7 linked regions of the Homo sapiens genome follow. The protein of the gene in region 2 purifies or fractionates together with the protein of the main gene of each other region. This does not show direct contact. Each region holds a gene or a part of one and is shown on either strand. Other genes may lie near its edges. The genes, in order: DHFR, CCZ1B, THBS3, KLHL14, KLK15, D2HGDH and PLEKHG7.

Region 1 (4,230 bases), on a different chromosome or scaffold from region 2:
AGCCTATATCGGGAAGGTTAGAAAATGATGTGTTATCTCTACTCTGAGAAGGCCTGACGTATGTGAAGCAATTTAAACCTTACAACTGAATGACAAGGTTCCTTGCCATCCACTCTTCAAAGAATCCTCTACTTTTAGCTCTGGAAAACCCTATGGGTGAACTGTTTTTAACACCATAAAAGACAAGGTAGAGTCTGATAGTCAGGAGCCTCAGCAACTCAAGCCGTGTTTAGAATTAATTGAAACCAAGGCTGCTACCGGTCTTGATTCAATGAGCCTTCAGCTTTCTCTAATTATAAAACTTGAATCACCCTACTTACATATGCTAAATAAAATACCTCTAAGAAATAAACAGTTATGTAGCAAAGGCACAGAGGGGAAAAGATAGGTAATAAAAGAACAGTATCATTTTTGACATGTTCACTGCAATTTAAGTGTTTCCTGTTTAAAAGGTTTATGTTCATCACTAAAGATGTGACAAGATTATGAATTTTTTCTTGGCAGAAAACTTGCCAAAAGCATACATAAGTCCTTCACCAGCTACCCTTTAAATGGTGGGTGCAAAATTTTGGTGAATTCATGAAAACGTAGCTCGTCCTCAAAAAAAACAGAAGAGGAGTAATCATTTTAAGGGAGAAATATATACGAAAGGAACAAGATTTTGAAGCACCCAAGCTGCCACCTACATTAAAACACGGTAGGTGGCTAAACACCAGTCTTCAATGCCCTTCCACAGCCTCAATCTGAAAAATACTGTGCAGGTGACCCAAGTGAGGGGTCACCCTTGGGCTTTTCCTGTGGCAGTATCTCTGGTTTAAAAACAAACAAACGTACTTATTGCGTTGAAGGATGGCAACAGGAAGGACTCCATGATTAGTCACATCTATACCATCCTAAGAAACTTTATCCACCCAAACTGTATTTCAGACTTTATAATCTAAACTACAAAAAGAGTTCACTGGGGAACTGCACAATATGACTGCTTTTAACCGTAGTGATTTCAAATATTGAGCCATGCTGTTGCAGTCTTAAAAACTGGAGACCTAAGGGCAGCTTTCTTCTAGTCACCCAATCCAGCACTTTTTTAAAAAATCAGTAAAACTCTTCGACCACCAAGGAAAAAAAAAAAGGATGGAGGTTAAAAGACGCACCCCTTGCCCACAAGCCCCCTCATCAGAATGGGAGTCAGGAGACCTGAGTTCCTGTCTCAGGCCTGCCATTAAAAACCTGCATAACCTTTGCCTATCTCCTCAAACGGAAGTACTAAAACCTCAGCGCTTCACCCAATTTGTAGCCCCGGCTGGGCTCTTCCCACCTTCCCCTTCTTCAGCCCGCCCCTTCCTCCTCCAGCCCTATCATCGGGCGGAGGGTCCCCGCCTCCGCCCGCCTTACCCACAAGCCCCGCCCCCCCAGCCCCGATGGCCCTGCCCAGTCCCAGACAGAACCTACTATGTGCGGCGGCAGCTGGGGCGGGAAGGCGGGAGCTGGGGGCGCTGGGGGCGCTGCGGCCGCTGCGGCCGCTGCAGCCGCTGCAGCGCCAGGGTCCACCTGGTCGGCTGCACCTGTGGAGGAGGAGGTGGATTTCAGGCTTCCCGTAGACTGGAAGAATCGGCTCAAAACCGCTTGCCTCGCAGGGGCTGAGCTGGAGGCAGCGAGGCCGCCCGACGCAGGCTTCCGGCGAGACATGGCAGGGCAAGGATGGCAGCCCGGCGGCAGGGCCTGGCGAGGAGCGCGAGCCCGCGGCCGCAGTTCCCAGGCGTCTGCGGGCGCGAGCACGCCGCGACCCTGCGTGCGCCGGGGCGGGGGGGCGGGGCCTCGCCTGCACAAATGGGGACGAGGGGGGCGGGGCGGCCACAATTTCGCGCCAAACTTGACCGCGCGTTCTGCTGTAACGAGCGGGCTCGGAGGTCCTCCCGCTGCTGTCATGGTTGGTTCGCTAAACTGCATCGTCGCTGTGTCCCAGAACATGGGCATCGGCAAGAACGGGGACCTGCCCTGGCCACCGCTCAGGTATCTGCCGGGCCGGGGCGATGGGACCCAAACGGGCGCAGGCTGCCCACGGTCGGGGTGGCCGACTCCCGGCGAGAGGATGGGGCCAGACTTGCGGTCTGCGCTGGCAGGAAGGGTGGGCCCGACTGGATTCCCCTTTTCTGCTGCGCGGGAGGCCCAGTTGCTGATTTCTGCCCGGATTCTGCTGCCCGGTGAGGTCTTTGCCCTGCGGCGCCCTCGCCCAGGGCAAAGTCCCAGCCCTGGAGAAAACACCTCACCCCTACCCACAGCGCTCCGTTTGTCAGGTGCCTTAGAGCTCGAGCCCAAGGGATAATGTTTCGAGTAACGCTGTTTCTCTAACTTGTAGGAATGAATTCAGATATTTCCAGAGAATGACCACAACCTCTTCAGTAGAAGGTAATGTGGGATTAAGTAGGGTCTTGCTTGATGAAGTTTACCAGTGCAAATGTTAGTTAAATGGAAAGTTTTCCGTGTTAATCTGGGACCTTTTCTCTTATTATGGATCTGTATGATCTGTATGCAGTTCCCAAGGTTCATTTACCATTATTAAAAAATTTTTGTCTTAGAAATTTTATGTATGTCAACGCACGAGCAAATTATCAGGCATGGGGCAGAATTGGCAGCTGGGTGGAGGCTTCGGTGGAGGTGAGCACTCCGAAAGGAAAACAGAGTAGGCCTTTGGAACAGCTGCTGGAAGAGATAAGGCCTGAACAAGGGCAGTGGAGAAGAGAGGGTAAAAATTTTTTAAGGTTACATGACCCTGGATTTTGGAGATCTCGAATTTAAAGGTGATGCACCAGGGATGAACGCTCAGATTTTCAGTTTGAAAGCTGGCGTGACATGTAAAGGAGTGGAGAATAATGTACCATTGTAATGATGAGGCGCCTCTAGGACATCTAGGATAATTTCAGGCGTGGGGATCTAGGTGAATTGAACTGTTGGAGGGAAGGGAATAACCAAGGAAAAGAATGTGGGGGTTGAGAGATGCCCCGTTTAAAACCTAAGAGACCTGGATATTTATGGTTGTAAGAGGAGGCATGGCAGAGGAAATGGAAACAGTAAGAAAGGAGCAGATGCTGCATCTCTTTAATGGGACAGATACAAGGCATTTGGGTTTGACACTTAGGTCACTGGTAGAGATGATGACAAGAGCCCGTAGCTAAAGAATTGATAAAAGCCAGTCTCAAAAATCCCAATATAGTCTGGTAATGTTAATGTTTCTTTGGTTCAGATAGCTGACTCTCAAAGTTATTTTCCTAAGAAACTGAACCAAAAGTGGACGCTATATGTAAAAAGTTTTTATAGAAGTGTTATAAGAGTAGGATAGAGACATAATTAAACATGTTTTAAGGTAATTGAGTGGAACATTAAGCACCTATTTTTAAAAGTATGATTTAATATCAATCTACAAAGTACACAAATATAATACAATTGTATCAGACAGTTGTGACAGCACTGATTAGAGGCTGAACATTATTCTAAGTCTTTAATTCCCACAACAACCCTAGAAGCAGGAACTATTGTTATCTCTATTTTATAGATAAAGTAAACCACAAGGGGTTAACACGTTTTGTCTTGTGGGTGACAAAATGCATTCAACTTGAGCACTTTGACTCAGAATCTTTTTTTTTTTTTTTTTTAAGAGGGAGTCTTGCTCTGTCGCCCAGGCTGGAGTGCAGTGGCGCGATCTCCGCTCACTGCAAGCTCCGCCTCCCGGGTTCACACCATTCTTCTGCCTCAGCCTCCTGAGTAGCTGGGACTACAGACGCCTGCCACCACACCTGGCTAATTTTTTGTATTTTTAGTAGAGACGGGGTTTCACCGTGTTAGCCAGGATGGTCTCGATCTCCTGACCTCGTGATCTGCCCATCTTGGCCTCCCCAGAATCTTTACTATGTCATACACAATTGCAAATGATTAAAACTAAATATTGGATATAAATTGGATAATGCCAAAGGGAAAAATAGTTAGATTTAGGTAATGAGTGATAAGTATGAATTTTGGTAAGACTTTTAAGTTCAGTTTTTTAAAGGAGATCTCTGCCAAACCCCAAAAACAAAGAGCCCTAACATCAGCCTAACCAGATTTCAAATTTCATCTTTTGGCGGTATGCATTTTTAACAGTCACCCCTCAACTAACACATCATCCTCCCTCAACTCACATTCTACTAACCCCATCAATGCAACTCCCTGCCCACCTTACTCAACATATACACCGCT
Region 2 (3,500 bases):
CTGGCAGTCCCAGCGACTTAGGAGGCCAAGGTGGGAAGATCACTTGAACCCAGGAGGTCGAGGCTACAGTGAGCTATGATCATGCCACTGCACTCCAAGAGTGAAACCCCGTCTCCAACAAAAAAACCCCAAACAACCGAAACCCCCAAAACATATTTATCACTTAAGAATAGGATGCAGCAAAGTACAAAAAGCTTAGGCTGAAATCAGACAAAGGCGCGTACCCACCGTCGATCATAAAGCACACAGCCGCACTCATGGCCTGGGAAGACAGAACAAACCAGAGGTTATGAAATGGTGGAAAAAAGGAGACTTTCGTATAATAACAATCTGTTCAAAGTCAATGGGGAGAAGTCAACTGTAAGAAGCTGCTTTTTGGTCAACTAGAGCCATCTGGACACAGACTGCCCATTCCATGATGCGAGGGGAGTGCTGTTGACCTTGTCAGGTGTGACAGCGCCAGTGGGGAGGTTACCACGGATGTCCTCATCAGAGAGGCACAGGGAAGTGTTCGTGACTGACGTGATGACTTAAAATGCTCTTGCAAACCCGACAACACAACATGGAGAAGCAACGAAGACCAGAATCTTATTCACTTGTGTGATGGGGACTTAGGGGTTCACTGTTCTAATCTCTCTGTGTATAGTCCAGAGAGAATAGAGAATTGGCAGAAACTGTCCATTATTCTGTGACGATTTCCATTGACACACGTTTACAAAGACAGCAAATGGATATCATCCTGTCTCACTTTATTATAGCAAGTAATTACAGTTATGACATTAGACCTAGCAACCGACAACAACCAGGACCACAGATAACCAAAAATGTTTAAAAGTTATCAAAGCAATGTATGGTTAAGAGAGGCTGAGCAGAACACCAGGCCTGATGATGAAAGCCACAGATTTCGTTCTCTGACCCTCCTCCCCGGCAACCACTTTACACTGTCATTAGACAACAGCGTTATCCTAACTCTTCAACGTATCCTCTTTGGGCATCGTACTGACTTCCTGCTCATGTCATGACAGGTGTGACCCCTCGTCTGCCTTCCCCCTCCTCCTCTATGGTTTATAGCATTCTATTTCCTCCGCTGGCCGCCTTCCACCAGCCACAGCCTCCGCTCCTGAACTCACATTCCCACCTGCCCCAGTACCTCTTCCCACTTCCGAGAGCGAGATCCTGTCTCAAGAGAAGAAAGATCTCAAATCAGTGACCTGACCTTTCGTCTTAAGATCCTGGACAACAGGAGTCAACTAAACCTAAAGCAAGTGGGGCCGGGTGTGGTGGCTCATACCTGTAAGCCCAGCACTTTGGGAGGCCGAGGTGGGCGGATCACCTGAGGTCAGGAGTTTGAGACCAGCCTGGCTAACATGGCAAAACCCCATCTCTACTAAAAGTACAAAAAAATTAGCCGGGCGTGGTGGTGCGCCTATAATCCCAGCTACTCAGGAGGCTGCGGCAAGAGAATCATGTGAACCTGGGAGGCAGAGGTTGCAGTGAGCTGAGACTGTGCCACTGCACTCCAGCCTGGGTGACAGAGCAGGACTCCGTCTCAAAAAAAACAAAAACAAAAACAAAAAAACCCAAACAAACCTAAAGCAAATGGAAGGAAATAATAAAGCATGAGAGCAGAAACAAACTCAACAGAGAAAAATCACAGAGATAATAAATGAAACCAAAAGTTGTTCTCTGAAAAGACCCAACATTGAAAAACTTTTCCTTTTTCTTGTGAAGATTCCAGAAGTATGAAGAACCTTTAGCTAGACTATACAACAAGAAACAAAGAGAGAAGACTCAAATTACTAAAACCAGGAATGAAAGAGGAGACATCACTACTGACTTTACAGGAAAAACGAAGGAGTATCCGGCTTTACCTACAATACCATGAAAAACCACGTGCCGACAAATCAAATAAATTAATTGAAGCTGACAAATTCCTAGAAAGACACAAACTACCAAAGCTGACTCAAGAAGAAACAAAATCAAAATAAACCTGTAACAAGTACAGAGATTAACCCATTTATGCTGGAGGTTGTAAATCTTTTTTGTGAAAAATGAGACCTTGGCAATGACCTTCAGCAGGATATAAATAACTCTCACAAGCTTAGTGTTCCAATAATGGAACACTGGGCATAAATGGTTAACTTTAAAATTTGCCACAAAGAAAAGCCCAGGTGCAGAGAGCTTGACTGTGAATTCTATGAAACATGTAAAGAGGAATTAACACCAATTTTTCACTGTCTTCCAAAAAAATAGGAGGGAACATTTCCCAACACATTTTATCAAGCCAGCATTGCCCAAAGATATCACAAGAAAACAAAACTACAGGCCAATATCCCTTACACCCAAGCCCGCACAGCACCCGCTCCACCTCTGGAGGGCTGGAGACTAAGGCTGGCCATGTGGGGCCAGCTGTGTCTCTGTGGCCAACCCCCAATCAGATCTCTGGATCTCGAGGCTCAGGTGAGCTTCCCTGGATGTCAACACTCCACAGACACAGCCACACATCCTCGATGGGGAAACACTCACTGGGCTGTCCACATGACCCCAACGGGAGAGGACAGCCGGAAGCTCACACCAGAGTGGGACTCCATCTCAAAAACCAAAAAACCAAAAAAAAAAAAAACAAAAAACAAAACAAAAACCCAAAAAACCAAACCAACCCAAACCAACCTAAAGCAAATAGAAGGACTCCTGGTCCTTCCATTGGTGGCTCCTGGGCCCTGCCCCACACGCCTCTTCCCCGGGCTGATTTTAACCTGTATTCTTCCACTGTAATAAACCGCAGCTGTGAGTGCCGCCATTCTTCCTTCCCCCTGGTTTTGTTTCCCATGGTTTCTGTTATGTGAGGGACAGTATAATAAAATATTGAGGGAAGGGGGAAGCAAACCGCATTCACATGACTTTTATTGCAGTAGAGTGTCATCGTCCAATTATGATTACTATTACTTGTTTTGAGATGGGGTCTCACTCTTGTCCAGGCTGGAGTGCAGTGGCACGATCTTGGCTCACTGCAACCTCCGCCTCCCAGGTTCAAGAGATTCTCCTGACTCAGCCTCCTGAGTAACTTGGATTACATGTGCATGCCACCATGCCTGGCTAATTTTTCTATCTATAGTAGAGGCAGGGTTTCACCACACTGGCCAGGCTGGTCTCAAGTTCCTGGCCTCAAGTGATCTGCCTGCCTCGGCCTCCCAAAGTGCTGGGATTACAGGTGTGAGCCACTGCGCCCAGCCTTATTAATCGCTTACTGTACTGAATTTATAAACATTATCACAGGCATGTATGTACAGGAAAAAACACAGCAAGTGAAGGGTTTGGTACTGTCCCCGGTTTCAGGCACCTCCCGGGGGTTTTGGAACACATGGCCTTTGGCTCGGGGGTACTGCTGTAGAAAGCCTTTTCTGAGTCCTGTAGTACTTCTAGAGAACTCTTACCCTAAAGGTGGTCACGGGGACTCCCAAACTCGCAGTGGGTGTCAGAAGTGAGGATGGTCTTGGAGA
Region 3 (3,500 bases), on a different chromosome or scaffold from region 2:
CACTGTTCATGGTCTGAACGATTTCCATGCCCTGGGGTTGTATAGTAAAGAAAAAGCTGTGATGCAGGTGTGCTATCCCTCCCAGGCCCCCCGTCCCAGTAGCCCTGTCTGATAGCACCTGCCCAGCCCACTGCCCCGAGTTACCTGGTTGAGCACAACCCAGTTTGGGTCAATCTGAGCATCACCCTCAGGATCCAGGACGACGGTCTGATAGGCCCGAAAATCCGTAAGCGTTACCTCTGCACTTTCAGGACACACATCCAGGGGGTCGACCACAGCATCATTGTCAAAGTCATCCTCACACACATCACCAACGCCATTGCCTGGGCAGAGTGAGGCTGGGTGCTCAGGAAGGCCCTGGCCACTGCCATTAGGCAACAATACCATCTGTTGGGCCTGCATTCCTGACATCTTTCCCCACCTTGCCCTTCCTCACTTCCCAACAGGGCTTGCTGCCTCCACCTGGGCAAAGGCAACACCAGTCTAACGTGCTCTGGGTCCGCAGGCTTACCATCTGAGTCCTTCTGATTGGGATTGGGTACCAGGCGGCAGTTATCGGGACCAGGAGGCACATAATCTGGGATGCCATCATTGTCATCATCCCCATCACACTCATCTCCAAGTCCATCGTTATCAGAGTCCAGCTGGGAGCTATTTGGCAGCTGTGGGCAGTTGTCCTTGGTGTCCTGATGCCCATCCCCATCGCTAATCAGAAGAACAGGTACCAAATAAAGGATTTAAAGGTACTCCTTGTCCTTCCCTTCGCTTCTGCCTGGGAGTCTCTGGAGCCTGCTCTCCATACAATCAGACCCCTGGCAGTCAGCCAGGTGAGGTGAAGGTCTGGCAGTAGGAATGGAGGGATGACTGTAAGAATAAATTCCTGCTGAATAGCAATAGAGAATTAAGGCTAAATCATAGAAGGAATTTAGAATATACTATGGCCTGGGCACAGTGGCTCATGCCTGTATTCCCAGTACTTTGGGAGGCCAAGGCGGGCAGATCACCTGAGGTCAGGAGTTCGAGACCAGCCTGGCCAACACGATGAAACCCTGTCTCTACTAAAAACACAAAAATTAGCTGAGCTTGGTAGCACGCGCCTGTAATCCCAGCTACTCGGGAGGCTGAGGCAGGAAAATCGCTTGAACCCTGGAGGTGGAGGTCGCAGTGAGCCGATATCACTGCACTCCAGCTTGAGTGACAGAGCAAGACTCCATCTCAAAAAAAAAAAGGAGGCCGGGCACGGTGGCTCACGCCTGTAATCCCAGCACTTTGGGAGGCTGAGGCAGGCAAATCACGAGATCAGGAGATCGAGACCATCCTGGTTAACACAGTGAAACCCCGTCTCTACTAAAAACACAAAAAATTAGCCGGGCGTGGTGGCAGGCGCCTGTAGTCCCAGCTACTTGGGAGGCTGAGGCAGAAGAATGGCGTGAACTCGGGAGGTGGAGCTTGCAGTGAGCCGAGATCATGCCACTGTACTCCAGCCTGGGCGACAGAGCAAGACTCCGTCTCAAAAAAAAAAAAAAAAGGATATACTAGAGGAAAGTAAAATATCCCCTATAAGACCTTGCATTTCGCTGGCACAGTGGCTCACACCTGTAATCACAGCACTTTGGGAGGCAGAGGCTGGCGGATCACCTGAGGTAAGGAGTTCGAGACCAGCCTGGCCAACATGGTGAAACCCTGTCTCTACTGAAAATACAAGAATTAGCTGGGCTTGGTAGCACATGCCTGTAATCCTAGCCACTCAGGGAGGTTGAGGCATGAGAATCACTTGACCCTGGGAGACGGAGGTTGCAGTGAGCCAAGATCGTGCCACTGTACTCCAGCCTAGGTGACAGAGCAAGACTCCGTCTCAGAAAGACAAAAAAAAGAAAGACCTTGCGTCTCTTGACCAAGACCTTACCTGTCTTCATTAGTATCACAGACATCCCCCACCAGGTCGCTGTCTGCATCTGTCTGAGAGAGAGGGACCTGTTCTCACCATCTCCTCTTGATAACTCTGAAGAGGGTGATCTGACCACTTTCCATCCAAAGGGCTGGGGCTTCATCCATCAGTACCCTCATCCCTCCCCTGTCCTTACCATCTCCCTGTACCTGGGTAGGATTGCTCATTTCAGGGCAGCTGTCGCAAGCATCTCCCACCCCGTCCTCATCCCTGTCTGTCTGTAGTGGGTTGGGGACTTTAGGGCAATTGTCCAATCCATTGGGGATGCCTAGAAGACATGGGTAGCACAAGGTTGTTACTAGAACATGCCATATTCTCTCTTCTAGGTTGGTGAAAGTCCCGAACTTTGTCTCCCCACCCAGAGGACAACTGGCCAGGAAATCTGCCTGTTTCTTGTCTCACCCTCTAGTCCACACTCTGCCTAACACTACGCCCTACCTCACATTCCTATTGACATCTGCTGCAGGTAATCTCTCCTCACCCAGGCCAACGTCCACAAGCCTGCCTCCCTATTTCACAGAGACTTCCTAGCTTCCCTGCTTCATCCCCACCTGATCCAAATTCTCACAGGTCCCCCAGCCACCCCTTCAGCCCCAGGCCTGCACCATCCCCATCCACGTCGTTGTCACAGGCATCTCCTTCCCCATTGCCATCTGTGTCCTTCTGGTCATTGTTGGGAACGTTGGGGCAATTGTCACAGGCATCACCAAATGAATCTGTATCTGAGTTCTGCTGGTCTTTGTTGGGGAACAGCCGGCAGTTGTCCTGGGCAGAGGGGTGGGAGGGGAAGGGTCAGGTCTCCCCTAAATCACTTGTCATCTTGCACCTACCTTGTCTCTGTATCCTTTTCTAAGATCACACCCTTGTGATGGACAAACTGCTCAGTACAGTCCCACCCACCCAGCCTCCTTGTCCTGGGCACGAGGTTTTTGCCTCCCTGATTTGGAGTATTTGGCCCTTACTAGAGAGCTGCCAGATGAGGTAAGTGAGGCACAGAGAGGACAGGAGGAGGGGAGAGGAGCTTCAAGGGGCAGGGCAGTCTGGGAGTCACCTCAACATTCTTGATCCCATCCCCATCAGCATCATCATCACACTGGTCCCCCACACCATCATTATCAGCATCTTCCTGCCCAGAGTTGGGTGTCAAAAGGCAGTTGTCCTAAAGTTCAGGGGAAGAGGATGGATGAGTTCTGGCCTGACCCAGCTTGGGCTCCCCACTACGCCCCCTTGCCCGCCTGCTCCCTGCACCTGTTTGCAGTGTTTGTTGTTGTCCATGCAGGGCAGTGCTTGGTCTGGGTAGCCATCGATGTCTGTGTCAGTCCCACACACGTTCCCATTCCCAGCCCAGCCCACGTTACACTAGGGCAACACAAAGGGTAGGAGCTAGCAGTTTGGTCTGGCTCCCCTCCTCCCTATATTTTCCCTGCTTCAGGTCCTATTCTCCCCACCAAACAGTTCCTGGGCCCAGGCCCACCTCTCTCCTATGAAGACCCCCAACCCAGGCCCTAAACATAGCCCTACTCCTTTCCCCAGACCCTCCCTTTTCCTTCCA
Region 4 (3,500 bases), on a different chromosome or scaffold from region 2:
GCAAGATCGCCGCGCTGCACGGCCTGGAGGAGACCAAGAAGCTGGCCAACAAGTACCTGGTGGAGGATGTGCTGCTGCTCAACTTCGAGGAGATGCGCGCCCTGCTGGACTCGCTGCCGCCCCCCGTGGAGTCGGAGCTGGCGCTCTTCCAGATGTCCGTGCTGTGGCTGGAGCACGACCGCGAGACCCGCATGCAGTATGCGCCTGACCTCATGAAGCGCCTCCGCTTCGCCCTCATCCCGGCCCCGGAGCTGGTGGAGCGGGTCCAGTCAGTGGATTTCATGCGAACCGACCCGGTCTGCCAGAAGCTGCTGCTGGACGCCATGAACTACCACCTGATGCCCTTCAGGCAGCACTGCAGGCAGAGCCTGGCCAGCAGGTAGGAGACAACAAAGAGGAGGGCGGGGGAGGGGGGGGTAGAGCCAGAGAGGCCGGAGGGAGGGGAGGGGGCAGGGAGGAGGGAAGAGATGGGTGGCCTGGGCGGGTGGCTCTGGCAGGATGAAAACAAACGCAAACAATTCAGAGTGTGTGAGGAAAGTTGATTTCAGAGTCCCTGAAAGGTCAATAGGGAACTGGCCTAGCAGCATCCCTGAGCGCTCCAAAGCCGAGGTTCTAGATATCCCCAGAGCCGTAAACATGGGAATTGTGGACTCAGACTGAAATTGACAGGCAGATGGGGCCAAAGGCCAGGACAGTTAGAAGTGTAGCTTTGGAAGTCTCTCTAAGCCAGCTCTCCCTACAAATCTTAAGATGGGCTTGCTCAAGAAAAAGGATCCTGTGGTGAGGAATGCCCACCCCACCCCTCCTCAGTTCTGCCTTGGGTGAGCAGAAGAGCCCAGGCGATGCTTGCAAAGGAAGGCTTTCATGGTCTTGCCGTCACACACTCAAGTTGTTTCTTCATGACTGGGATCTGCTCCCTGTCGATGTCAGAACTCCAAAATGCTTTGTCTATTAGGGTCACTATTGGAAATGCTGGTATCATGTGCCCAGGCAAACTTTTCTATGTTGTGGAAAGCCTTTCCTTTTCACTTTTAAAGGAGAGTAAAGCAAGAGATTTCAGGGTGATGGGGTGAATCTTGCCTAGCAACTCCCATTTCTGAGAAGAGTGCACTTGAAAATTGGGATGGAGGAGTGGAGAGGCTTCTAGCTCCAGTTGGTCTGTGTGCCTGCTCACCAGTGACAAAGAAGTTGGAGAGTTGCTGCTGCCTCTGTTGTTGCTAGTTAGAAATGTGGCTGTGTGTGTTGCAAGTAGGATTTCAGGGGAGAGAGAAATGATGCCTTTTAAAAATGCTGCTGAGATAAAAAGGCTGTAGGAATTGACAATCGTGTTTTATTGGCTCCAATTTTAAAACCATTTTTAATGAGCCCTAGCAAAGGGTTTCTTTCTCTTTTTAGAAAAGAGAAACAGTATCCTCTCAGTTTCTCATGATAAAACATCATGATTCCAGATGCCAGGCTACTCCAGCCTAACCACCAAAGTGTTACAAAGTGTAGCAAAGTACATGGTTTGAAAATCTAGCAGGGCATTTTCCCAGTCAGAATGATGTCTAAAGAATGGGGCCCACCTTGTGCAGCCTTATAGAATTAAATGGTGTGTGTGTGTGTGTGTGTGTGTGTGTGTGTGTGTGTGTGTCATTATGTTTCCACCAGACCTAGGTAACTAAAGTTTAAAGAAATGGAAGATACTCTCTACACTTTTTTAGGCAGCTCTTGTGTTAAGGAGAGGCCAACAGGAGGCATGAGAAATCTTGAACTTGTAACAAAACCCTGTAAGTTCATTTTTCTAACATCTGTGGGAGATGAGTTAACGAATCGTGTTGTCAAAAGATGATAATAGGACAATAGAAGAAACAAGAATCCAAATCCCCGTGTGCTTTTAACAGTGAGCACAAGAGGCCAATGAGGAAAAAAACATGAAACGTATTTTTATTTTATTGGAATTTTTCGTTTGTCTAAAGATCCAAATGGCAAACTCAGTGTGATGGGCGATGGGCCTTGGTGATTAATATTCTGTGATTTAAATTTTTGTCACTTTTAAATGACCTACAAGTATACTTCATTTAGCATATATCACACATAGTCAATAATTCAGACAACACAGTTATAGTTCTGAACATACATTTACTCATACTTTTAAAAATATGTATAACACGGTATAAATTCAGAAACCCAGAGGAATAATAAAATTAAGATTTAACTTATTCTAAGAGTAATTTTGGCAGAGGAGCTTTATAAATTTGATCCAGTAAATTTCTGAAGCCCTCAATGCACTTTTATCTAACAGGTATGTCCTAAGGTTCAATGTTAGAAGAGTTGACTTTCAAAATGCAAAATCCATTTCCCACTTTAGTCAAGATTCAGCACACCAGCTAGTGCCTGCTGGCTCTGTCCTGGTGGATGGCTGAGATACCAGGCTGCCTGGCTCCGTGACGACACCCTCCAGCTTCACTGGGCCACATCATTTGAAGGATATGTAGTGGTGTCTGACCACTGAATGCTTACAAGTGTCATGGATGCTGCAAGAATCTGATACTTCTGCAGTAGGAAGAAAACTGTATTTTCTTTTAAAAGAGAAAGATATAGAAAAGCAAATAGTTCATGCGAACCTATCATTGACCTCAAAGTAATATAATTTAGGTTTTATTCCTTTATTAGTAAAGGTAGCATTTTGAATTTTACAGACTAATTACATTATTTTAATTGTAATTCATAGGAAGAATGCCAAAATAACCATGAAGTTCCTAACTTTAAAGTAGACAGAAATGCTGTAAGTTGCAACCAACAATATTAAATCAGCCCATTTATTATAGCATCAGTGTAATATAAAAATGTTCCCTTAGCCTTATGTGTCATTTAACGGGGATAAATGTGTTAACCAATTGTTTTTGAGATTACATCACTTTCATTGAAGACAATTGAATAGAAGGACCTTGTATTTATTACTTTTTATCCACCTGTAGTTTTTAAACTCTAAATATAAAAGAGTTTCTTAAATTCAGAGAAGGAGATGAAAATGTAAAATTGACCAGTCTTTTGGAATAAGTACAAAGTATAAGCAAATAGAATAACTTCAAAAGAGAATTTACTTGTTTAAGAGTATATTATCTATAGAAAGTAGAGATATTAATATAATCATAATTTAAGCATTTTAAAGATTATTAATTTTGAGTTTTCATTAAGCCTAGAAAAGTAAAGGAACCCAAGTATGAAATCTTTATACAAATACTCAAATTAATATAAAATGTTCCCTCTTGTTGCTTGGTTTTTCTAAGTATACCAGTTGCACTTAAATTCATATTCCATTTTACCAAACTTAACATAAGGACAATAAGTAAAATAAGAAACTTGTCACTCTGTATTCAAATACACACATAAGTAATTTAAGATGACAGGATTGACAAAGGATATAAAGTTTCAGTTAGACGGGAAGAATAAGTTTTAGTGATCTATTGCACCAGCAACGTGACCACAGTTAGTAAAAAAGTATTACATATTTCAAA
Region 5 (2,893 bases), on a different chromosome or scaffold from region 2:
AGACAGCACCCAGTGTGGGGAGATGAGGGAAGCGCCACAGTTAAAGCGTCCACGCTCGTAGAGAGCCACTTGCCATGGCTGGGAGTGGGGTGCACACTCGTCACCTTCCAGCAACTTGTCACCATCCTGGGCTGCTAAGAGAAGGGGTAGAGGATGCCTGAGGACAGGGACGTTTACATTGCCTCCTACACCTTCCTTGCACCCTGCCCTAACTACTATATGCCTATGCCTTTCCCCTAACTTCTCAAGACACCCTGCCCTGTTTTTGTTTGTTGTTGTTGTTGTTTTTGAGACGGAGTCTCACTCTTTTGCCCAGGCTGGAGTGCAGTGGCATGATCTCAGCTCACTGCAACTTCCGCCTCCTGGGTTCAAGTGATCCTCCTGCCTCAGCCTCCCGAGTAGCTGAGGTGCCCGCCACCACACCTGGCTAATTTTTGTATTTTTAGTAGAGACGAGGTCTCACCATGTTAGCCAGGGTAGTCTCAAACTTCTGACTTCAAATGCTCTGCCCGCCTCAGCCTCCCAAAGTGCTGGGATTACAGGTGTGAGCCACCATGCTCCGCCTGCCCTGTTGTTTATTTACAACCGCTGCCTGTTTTCTCCAGAACTCTAGCCCCCACCCCATTTGCTATAAGACTCTGGGAGAGAGAGGAAGGGGAACAGACCAGAGGGCAAGAAGTCCTCTGTGGTTGGGGGTGGAGACAGGGGCACTGGATACAGGTTCAGACAGGTGGTCACTTGAAACCAGTCATTCACGGTCACCAAATTGTCACAGACGTCAAACGCATGTGGCCACTCAGTATGTGTGACCCAGCCTTGGCCCCAGAGTCTGGACATGTCAGCCAAATTCAGTGTGCAGTATGAGTCCCAGATGTGGCTATACAAGGTCATGGACATGCATACATGCACATCCAGCTTCCACACTTAGGTACAGCTATGGACAGGACTGGAAGCTGAAATTCACTTGCATGCACATGGGTTGCAGCTTCAAGAATCACAGCACAGGCTGGGCACGGTGGCTCATGCCTGTAATCCCAGCACTTTGGGAGGCCGAGGCGGGTGGATCACCTGAGGTCAGGAGTTCGAGACCAGCCTGGCCAATATGGGGAAACCCTGTCTCTAACAAAAATACAAAAAATTAGCTGGGCATGGTGGCGGGTGCCTGTAATCCCAGCTACTCTGGAGGCTGAGGCAGGAAAATCGCTTGAACCCGGGAGGCGGAGATTGCAGTGAGCGGAGGTTGCTCCATTGCACTCCAGCCTGGGTGACAAGAGTGAAACTCCATCTCAAAAAAAAAAAAAAAAAAAAAAAAAGAATCACAGCACAGATGTTCATATGTGTATATGAATATGGATGGTTAAGACATGAATACATACACACACACACATGCACACACAAACACACACACAGAATTGGATATTGTTCAGACCTAAATTCAACATCTCTAGTGTGAGTCTTGGCATCCAGTGTCACAGACACTTGCATACAGGGTCTGGACAAAGATGGGTCCTTAAGCCTGGGTTCGAATGTACTAGCTGTGAAACTTTGAGTAAGTTATTCGACCTGTCTGTGCCTCTGTTTCCTCATCTGTAAAATGAAGATTGTTGTAAGGATGAGGTAGGAATGTGTATGTGTGTGTGTGCATGTGTGTATGTATGGTGAGTGATACCTAGCCCTGGTAGCTACTTAATAATATTAGTTGTTTTTTGCAAATGACACCTGGATTTAGTCACAGGGACATACGTGTGAAAGTTCAGGTCCATCCTGGAGATGGCCAACATAAGTCAGACATCTGCACAGAATTACCTATAATAAATAGTCAAGGTTGGCCAGGTGTGGTGGCTCACGCCTGTAATCCCAGCACTTTGGGAGGCCAAGGCCGAGGTGGGTGGATCACCTGAGGTCAGGAGTTTGAGACCAGCCTGGCCAACATCGTGAAATCCCGTCTCTACTAAAAAATAAATAAATAAATAAATAAAAATACAAAAATCAGCTGGGCGTGGTGGTGCGTGCCTGTAATTCTAGCTACTCGGGAGGCAGAGACAGAATTGCTTGAACCTGGGAGGCGGAGGTTGCAGTGAGCTGAGGTTGCACCACTGAACTCCAGCTTGGGCGGCAGAGCGAGACTCCGTCTCAAAAAAAACCAAACAAACAAAAAAAAGTCAAGGTTAAAACCGTGATTCACCCACAAGACATTTTGTAGAGTTAGAGCTGCAGACACCAACCCAGAAGGCCAACACTCAGATGTGGACTTGCTGTCTGGGGCAGCACCCAGACACGGGGCTGGGCATTCAAGGTCAAAGACATGCAGCTGAAGCCAGAGGCAGCCAGGGCAGGACATATTTATCCATCTCTAGATCAGCCCCCAAGCCAGATCTGTGGAGTCACTGATTGGGTTTCACATATGGGGATCTGGCTCATGCATGTGGAGAGGATGTGAACATACAGGGCCTTGTATACCCACTGCACACGTGCATGTACACACACACACACACACACACACACAGAATGGCATTATGCTTAAGGACATGATTAGAGACATTCAAGGTCACAGGACCAGGACCCCTCTCCACTGGGCAATGTGGATGCATCCCCTGAAGGTTGAAGCCATGCACACTCCCACCCACACAGGGGCAGGATTTGCACAGCCAGACCAAATGCCCACACTCTCCCCATCACAGTCAGGAACTGGGCCAAAGGCCCCCGTGAGACCAGGGGAATGCGGATGTGGTGGACAAGGGGCTTAACAAAGGAAGGGTGAGGTCGTCCTCCGAAGGGCGGAGGGTACGGGCTGAACAGCTGGGCACCGAGGCTGCACCTGGCCAGTCCAAGCCAGAGGAAGGTGGAGGCCCCAGCTGGGCGCAGCAGGCAGGCGCGAGGCAGGTAGGTGAGT
Region 6 (3,500 bases), on a different chromosome or scaffold from region 2:
TTCTGCAGCAGCCTGAGGTCATGCCAAGAGGCTGAAGGATGGACTTTCCTCCTGTACGAGTGACACCCTCCACACACAGCAGCTCACTGCCCAGGGGGCACGCCCGGGGTCGGGGGCAGTGGGGAGGCTCCCTGGGAGTAGGGCGTGAGCCCAGCCCAGGACCCAGCCACCTCTGGACCCACCAGCCATAAGGCATCAAAGCTCCCGAGCTGTGGGCCTCTCCGAGTCCTGTGTGCTGGTACTGTGAGTCGGAGGCCTACACAGCTCATGAGTGCAAAAAAGTAATTTACAATAAAGATAATCAGTGGCTGGCCAGAAAAAAAAGCTACTGAAGCGTCATAATTTACTGGATGGCACCAAAGCATGGTTTTGTGTTTGCTTCGTCCACTTGGGTAAACAGGACAGAGAGCTCTGCCTGTGACACTCGGCTGGTGAGGGTGCGGGTAAACAGAGGGGCCCTGGAGGAACAGTGGGCAGCAGAAGGTCACGAAGCTGACCCTGGATGAGCCTTCCTTCACACCCGGCTCCCAGAAGCCCACCACTGCCGGGGCGGTGTCCCCTGTAACTGCATCCTCTCTGTGTGGCCCCGAGGCAGTGGACACAAAATCACCCTCTCGTGGGAGGACAGGGCAGGGCCAGGCCTCCCTCAGGATGGGGGTGTATGTAGCCCACACATCCTTGAGGGGCCCAGGGCCAGGAACCAAGACCTCCCACCCCGAGGGGCCCCATGCACCTGTGCCACCACGTGGGCCCATGAGAGCCGTGAGAGGACACCCCGTGGCGACCTCTGCACCAAGCAGCTGCCCCAGCTCACCACTTCCAGGCCCAGGACAGTCCCATGCAGTGAGCCATATCGAAGAAACCGCAGGCCTCCAGCGTTGGTTGCCACGTTTCCCCCGATGTGGCAGCTGCCCTTGGCTCCTAAGTCCAGCGGCATGATGAAGTCCCGTTCCTCCACATACCGGCTCAGCTCCTCCAGGACGCAGCCCGCCTGGCAAACCAGAATTCCTGCAGAGAGTGACCAGGCTGCCGCAGCACTTGGCTTCCAGTGGGCCCCCGGGCTGGTGAGTCCCAACCCCCATCTTGCACAGGCAAGCCACCCAGAAGGAACATCAGCCTCAGCGCCAGGGCTGAGGAGAAGAGGCACCCCCACATCGCTGGCCCAAGGACGAAAACATCTGGGCCTCACAGGACCTTTATAATTATGGTGACACAAAAAAAAAATGAGTAACATGAAAAGAGAGGAAAAAACTTCCCACCCCCACACACACTCGTGGAAAGGAGTAGAAGAGGGAAGATTCTCAGCTGGGGCTGATCCTGCCCTGGGCATGTGGGACAATGCCTGGGTTGGGGGTGCCATGGGCACCTTGTAGGCGGAGGCCAAGGATGCTGCTCAACACCCAACAGTGCAGGCGCCCGACCACAGAGTGACCGGGGCCTGGAGCCCGGCCTTGCGGGGAGAGGCCCAGCTCCAGAGCAGGACCCTGGCGCCCTGGGTCAGGATCCCCTCATGCCTGCCACGCCCTGGCACCCTGGGTCAGGATCCCCTCACGCCTGCCACGCCCTGGCGCCCTGGGTCAGGATCCCCTCACGCCTGCCACGCCCTGGCGCCCTGGGTCAGGATCCCCTCATGCCTGCCACGCTCTGGCGCCCTGGGTCAGGATCCCCTCACGCCTGCCACGCCCTGGCGCCCTGGGTCAGGATCCCCTCACGCCTGCCACGCCCTGGCGCCCTGGGTCAGGATCCCCTCATGCCTGCCACGCCCTGGCACCCTGGGTCAGGATCCCCTCACACATGCCACTCTGCACCTCACACACCTCTAGAGCGGGATGGAGTCGGAAGGGACCAGAATGACAAGCCCTCACCAGCACGCATGTCTGGAGGGGCCGGGCGAGGTGGGGCTAGGCGGCCAGGCTACAGACGCTGGTTCTTTCCCCAGCGCCGGCCCTAACTCATTCACCCACCCAAGCACCCCACAGTTGCAGACGCTGGCAAGGAAGAACTCCACCAGCACCAGGAGGGACTCCTGGGCCCCGACGGGTGGCACAGGCTTACCAGACACGCTGTGGAAGCTGAGGACCCGGTTCATGCGGGCAGTGGAGAGGATGATCTCGTCAAAGACGGGGACGCTGCCACCCACCATGCCTGTGTTGCCCCCCTGTGGGTTCACGGCCAGGTTCCTCTCGTGGCAGTGCCTGGGATGAGGACAGGAGGGACGTTGGGGCTCTGTCCCCACCCCTACGCCACCATCCCCAAGGACACGCCGCAGGACCAGTGCCTGACTCCAAATCCTGATTACCCTGCCCTGCCTGCAGCCTCAGCGGGGGCTCCTCCCCAGCCCACGCATGTGAGGGATTCTGAGGAAGGACAGAGGCCAATCCGAAAGCTGTGCACAGGGAGACGGAAGTGGAGGCCCCGATTCTGACGTCCTACAAGGCTTCCCTCAAAGGACAGAACGTCCTACACGCCCGGCTCCCATCCTTCCCGTTCACACCATGCTCACAGAGGGTCCAGCTCAGGGTTCCTCGACCGCACTGCCCCCACTGCCTTCCACCCTCTGCCTGCATCTCCCCACCCTCGGCCCATTATCCCCCAGACGTGTGCCCAAGGATACCTCCCTCCCAACCAGCCTGCACCTTTGCAAAGCCCCAAAGCCTAGAGCACACCCAGTGGCTAGGGGTTTGGAGAAACCAAAGTTCCGTGCTCTGGGAAAAGGAATCTGCCCATGTACATGAAATAAACCCTGGAGACAGCAAGCCCCACACATGAAATAAACCCTGGAGACAGCAAGCCCCACACATGAAATAAACCCTGGAGGCAGCAAGCCCCACACATGAAATAAACCCTGGAGACAGCAAGTCCCACACATGAAATAAACCCTGGAGACAGCAAGCCCCATACATGAAATAAACCCTGGAGACAGCAAGCCCCATACATGAAATAAACCCTGGAGACAGCAAGCCCCACACATGAAATAAACCCTGGAGACAGCAAGCCCCATACATGAAATAAACCCTGGAGACAGCAAGTCCCACACATGAAATAAACCCTGGAGACAGCAAGCCCCACACATGAAATAAACCCTGGAGGCAGCAAGCCCCACACATGAAATAAACCCTGGAGACAGCAAGCCCCACACATGAAATAAACCCTGGAGACAGCAAGTCCCAGGGATGGAGTTTAACAGAGTAAGTGCACGTTGCCCCAAAGCACCTGCTGAGGATGATCTAAAGCACTGTCCACAGTCATGGACACCCGGAGACCAGTGCCACCCTGTAGTGTGTTCATGGGGGAGGAGCTTTGCTGTTACAGACAGTGCCAAGAAATGGGCATGGGCATTGCCAAATGGGGGGAAATGATTACACACCACAGATGCATTGAGATAGCACCGAAAAACCACAGAACAAACACTGAGACACACAAACCAAGATGTCATCGGCTGGCTTCGCACCGCGTCACCCCAGCTGCCCACAGGCTCCATGAGGAAATGACCCACAGGC
Region 7 (3,500 bases), on a different chromosome or scaffold from region 2:
GACTAAAAAAGCCAATAGTTTATAATGCCTTCATTTTTTAGAGGAAAAGATTCAGCTTAAGAATATTTTATATTTTTACCACAGTTTATTTAGAAATATTTCTAAACTCATTTAGCAAACTTGTTTAGAAACGTACTTTGAAATAGCAGCATTTTACCTTTTTGTTGCACTTAGTTTTCGTAACTAAGAGGAAATCATTGAAGAGAAACAGATAAACATCTAGGAATCTCGTGCTTTCTGAGGAAAAAAAGAGAAGCTGAAATGGGGACCTGAAACTGTTAAGTAGAAGAGTTTTTCTTTCCCTTTCTTTCTTTCTTTCTTTCTTTCTTTCTTTCTTTCTTTCTTTCTTTCTTTCTTTCTTTCTTCTTTCTTTCTTTCTTTTTCTTTCTTTCTTTTCATTCTCTCTTTCCTTCCTTCCTTCCTTCCTTCTTTCTTTCTTTCTCTCTTTTTTTTAATCAATGAATTCCTTAGAAAACAAAACTGGGTGAGTATTACGGCACCCCAGGGGCTCCAATCATGTAGGTCAGAAAGCTGCCTGCCTCAATGTTGAATTGATTTCTTCCTAAAGCAGAGACTTGATGAGAGGCCAAGCTTCCAACATTAAAGACATTGAATTTATGATGCGTCTCATTTGAATCTAAGATAACTCAGATGTTATTTGTAGTGGCTTCAACTCAGCCGAGGGTAAATCTATCAACTGATTGAACTTGCAGCATTTTTGCCTCTAGATTCCTCTGGGTGGTTATTGGCAAAGGCACACATAACCAGAGAAAAGGCATTTTCTCACTGCTATGAATTATGCTATTGTGTCACTCAAATTTCATATGTTGAAGCCCTAAACCACTAGGGTGGCTGCATTTGGAGTAAGAAAGTAATTAGGGTAAAATGAAGTGATAAGGCTGGTGCACTGATCCAGTAGCATTAGTGTTCTTTGAGACACCGGATACCTCCACCCTATCCCCCACTCCTTGTCTTGAAGAGAGCGCTCATCAGGAACTGAATTTGCCATCACCTTGGCCTGGGACTTTTCAGCCTCCAGATTGTAAGACATAAATTTCTGCTGTTTAAGTCAGCCTGTCTGTGATATTTTGTTATGGCGGCCTAGGTTGACAGTCATTAAAACTACTTATTTCTCAAGTTTTAGAAAGTGTCTATAAATGTTTAGATATTCTCCATCTGTTTCATATTTACAAACTTTTCTGATATTAGTTTTAATAGTTACTTAAGGCAAATAGCTTTTCTTTAGTTTTCCCTAAGAAGGGAATAGTAGTAGAAGAGAAACCAAGTATCAGAATAAGGCATCTCCTTCCTTATTTTACTCTATCCCTTAGAAATTAGAAAAAAGGGTTAAATTTAAGTGATTTCAGAGGAAAAGGTTTTTAGAGGGAGATGTGACAAGTGCTTAGAGTAATCATAGGAAAACCCAGTAAATTTTTTTCAGCTTGTTCTATTTAGATTATATATATATATTGTTCTAGAAGTTCTTTCTTATATGTTTTTACCCCTAGAAGATTTAAAGTAGTAGCTAAAACATTTAGGATTCATTTCTATCTCCTCTCATTCTTTAAGTTTAGAGAAAAGATTTTTTCTATATTTGCATAGGGGAGAAATCTGGTATTTTATTCAAATTAAATAGTCCTTGAATAGTTTTTTTAAAAATCATATTAAAAACTTAACTTTTCATAAATCAAGTTGTGGCAAAGACTTCTGGTTGTCCCTTGAAAACCATTCTCCCCTTCTCTTGTAGCAGTAGAATCCCCAAGTTTTAGTGAGTACCCATCCTCAGAGAACAGAGACTACATTTCCTTGCTGCTGAATATGACCAAGGAGCTAAATTCTGACCAATGGAATGTGAGCCAAAGCATGCAACTTCTGAGTCATATTCGTGAAGGGCAGGGCTAAGCTCTCTTGTCTCTGTCTCTCCTTCTCACTGGGTAGAATACAGACATATTGGTGAGTCATCTTGGGCCACACAGAAGAAGGCAGTTCCCTAGATTTGGGAATAAGACAGCAGGAATCTGGATTCCTAATGACTTCATGGAGTGGAGTTGTCATATAGGTTGAGACTTAACAAGAGAGAAATAAACTATCTTTTTTAACCTGTCCGTCTCCAGTGGCTGAATCTATATGCCAACTGATATACAGGGCTAGGAATGGTACAGCACTAGACCTGTGAACAGCCAGCTGAGCCTGCCATAGCAAAATACCACAGACAGGGTGGCTTAAGCAATAGGAATTTATTTCTCACAGTTCTGGAGCCTGGGAAGTAGATCAAGGTGCTGGTCGATTCAGTTCCTGATAAGGGCTTTCTTTTTGGGTTTCTGCATGTGTTCTTACATGGCAAACAGAGAGAGTGAGCTCTCTGATGTCTGCTCTGATTAGGATACTAATCCTATCAGATCAAGGCTCCAGCCTGAGTCCCTCATTTTACCTGCATTTCTTCCTTATTCCAAGTATAGTCATACTGGACATTAAGGCTTCAACATGTGATTTGTGGAAGAACACAATTCAGTCCACAGCAATGGAAGAACACAATTCAGTCCACAGCAACCTTCAAACCTGTAAAATTTGCTATTCCCATCTTCTGCTACTCATGTATGCGTCAGCTCAATGATCATTGTCAAAATGAAATAGTTTTGTTTTCTCCTTCTAATTTCAACTATTTTATTTTGACAAACAGGCAGGGAGCACACCTTCTACGTATTCCAGATGTTATTCTAGATAATGTTACAGACATTATTCTAGAAAGTGGTAATTATTTTATCTACCATTTATTGAGGCCCTAGTTTTCCACCAAGTAAGTTATGAAACAAATTATGAAAATGTGTACCTTCTGGGAATGAGAACATATACTTATTTGATTATAAGAGTACAGTTTTTAAGGCTGGGAGAAATTTGGAAACACAGTATGTGTTAGGTTTCATCACATCATTTTCATCCTCATTGTCATCATCATTATCAGCAGCAGCAATAACATTTATAAAAGAGAATAAGAGAATTTAAATTTTCCCAAAGCCTACAATTGGTGCTAGATCCCCTGACTGTTGGTTCAATGCTTTTTTCATTTAAAATGATGTCCTGTTTCCTCACTTGATCTTAGCCAAAAGACCAAGAAGTGAAATGTCCTGTTTCTTCTAACACTATCACCCTGCCCCATCAAATCTCGATGCTCAACTCTGAGTCCAGTCTCAGGACTTTGCACTTGGCTTGATGCCATGTAGACTACATCATATGGAGTCTCCATCTCTGATGGAATTTGACTAATACAGCATATGCCATTAAACAAGTGCCTGGTGTTAGTGACATTATGTAGTTCATGTCCATACTACCACATTTGACTGTACAAGAAGCATTTTCTGGAAAAGTTGAGTCTGTTTGTAAAGAGTCTTTCTTAGGTGAGCTTCCAACCCATACATCTATGACAGTCACTTTGAACCCATGCGATGCATGAATTCACATCTGACTTAGACTTTCACCCACCAGGAGCTGCTCCTCCAGCT

The links.
Region 1: the proteins of CCZ1B (region 2) and DHFR purify together in Homo sapiens (co-immunoprecipitation; one large-scale study listed by IntAct). This does not show direct contact.
Region 3: the proteins of CCZ1B (region 2) and THBS3 purify together in Homo sapiens (co-immunoprecipitation; 2 studies listed by IntAct). This does not show direct contact.
Region 4: the proteins of CCZ1B (region 2) and KLHL14 purify together in Homo sapiens (co-immunoprecipitation; one large-scale study listed by IntAct). This does not show direct contact.
Region 5: the proteins of CCZ1B (region 2) and KLK15 purify together in Homo sapiens (co-immunoprecipitation; one large-scale study listed by IntAct). This does not show direct contact.
Region 6: the proteins of CCZ1B (region 2) and D2HGDH purify together in Homo sapiens (co-immunoprecipitation; one large-scale study listed by IntAct). This does not show direct contact.
Region 7: the proteins of CCZ1B (region 2) and PLEKHG7 purify together in Homo sapiens (co-immunoprecipitation; one large-scale study listed by IntAct). This does not show direct contact.

The regions. Positions count from the first base shown.
Region 1 is NC_000005.10:80,652,184-80,656,413, reverse strand, and holds the start of DHFR (dihydrofolate reductase), read left to right. Parts: upstream 1-1,430; 5' UTR 1,431-1,449; coding exon of another isoform or gene 1,450-1,686; 5' UTR 1,687-1,924; coding exon 1,925-2,010; intron 2,011-2,356; coding exon 2,357-2,406; intron 2,407-4,230. Other genes in the region: DNA mismatch repair protein Msh3, read right to left, coding at 1-3, 1,450-1,686.
Region 2 is NC_000007.14:6,805,776-6,809,275, forward strand, and holds part of CCZ1B (vacuolar fusion protein CCZ1 homolog B), read right to left. Parts: intron 263-3,500; coding exon 229-262; intron 1-228.
Region 3 is NC_000001.11:155,197,898-155,201,397, forward strand, and holds part of THBS3 (thrombospondin-3 isoform 1 precursor), read right to left. Parts: intron 3,308-3,500; coding exon 3,197-3,307; intron 3,108-3,196; coding exon 3,000-3,107; intron 2,930-2,999; exon of another isoform or gene 2,803-2,929; intron 2,714-2,802; coding exon 2,554-2,713; intron 2,415-2,553; exon of another isoform or gene 2,275-2,414; intron 2,217-2,274; coding exon 2,098-2,216; coding exon of another isoform or gene 2,085-2,097; intron 1,960-2,084; coding exon 1,907-1,959; exon of another isoform or gene 1,901-1,906; intron 722-1,900; exon of another isoform or gene 706-721; coding exon 512-705; exon of another isoform or gene 447-511; intron 365-446; exon of another isoform or gene 324-364; coding exon 145-323; intron 32-144; coding exon 1-31. UniProt on the Homo sapiens protein: Adhesive glycoprotein that mediates cell-to-cell and cell-to-matrix interactions. Can bind to fibrinogen, fibronectin, laminin and type V collagen.
Region 4 is NC_000018.10:32,766,524-32,770,023, reverse strand, and holds part of KLHL14 (kelch-like protein 14), read left to right. Parts: coding exon 1-379; intron 380-3,500.
Region 5 is NC_000019.10:50,827,682-50,830,574, forward strand, and holds part of KLK15 (kallikrein-15 isoform 4 preproprotein), read right to left. Parts: intron 2,884-2,893; exon of another isoform or gene 2,849-2,883; intron 135-2,848; coding exon 1-134. UniProt on the Homo sapiens protein: Protease whose physiological substrate is not yet known.
Region 6 is NC_000002.12:241,741,130-241,744,629, reverse strand, and holds part of D2HGDH (D-2-hydroxyglutarate dehydrogenase, mitochondrial isoform 1 precursor), read right to left. Parts: intron 2,196-3,500; coding exon 2,056-2,195; intron 1,009-2,055; coding exon 815-1,008; intron 1-814.
Region 7 is NC_000012.12:92,758,489-92,761,988, reverse strand, and holds part of PLEKHG7 (pleckstrin homology domain-containing family G member 7), read right to left. Parts: intron 238-3,500; coding exon 158-237; intron 1-157.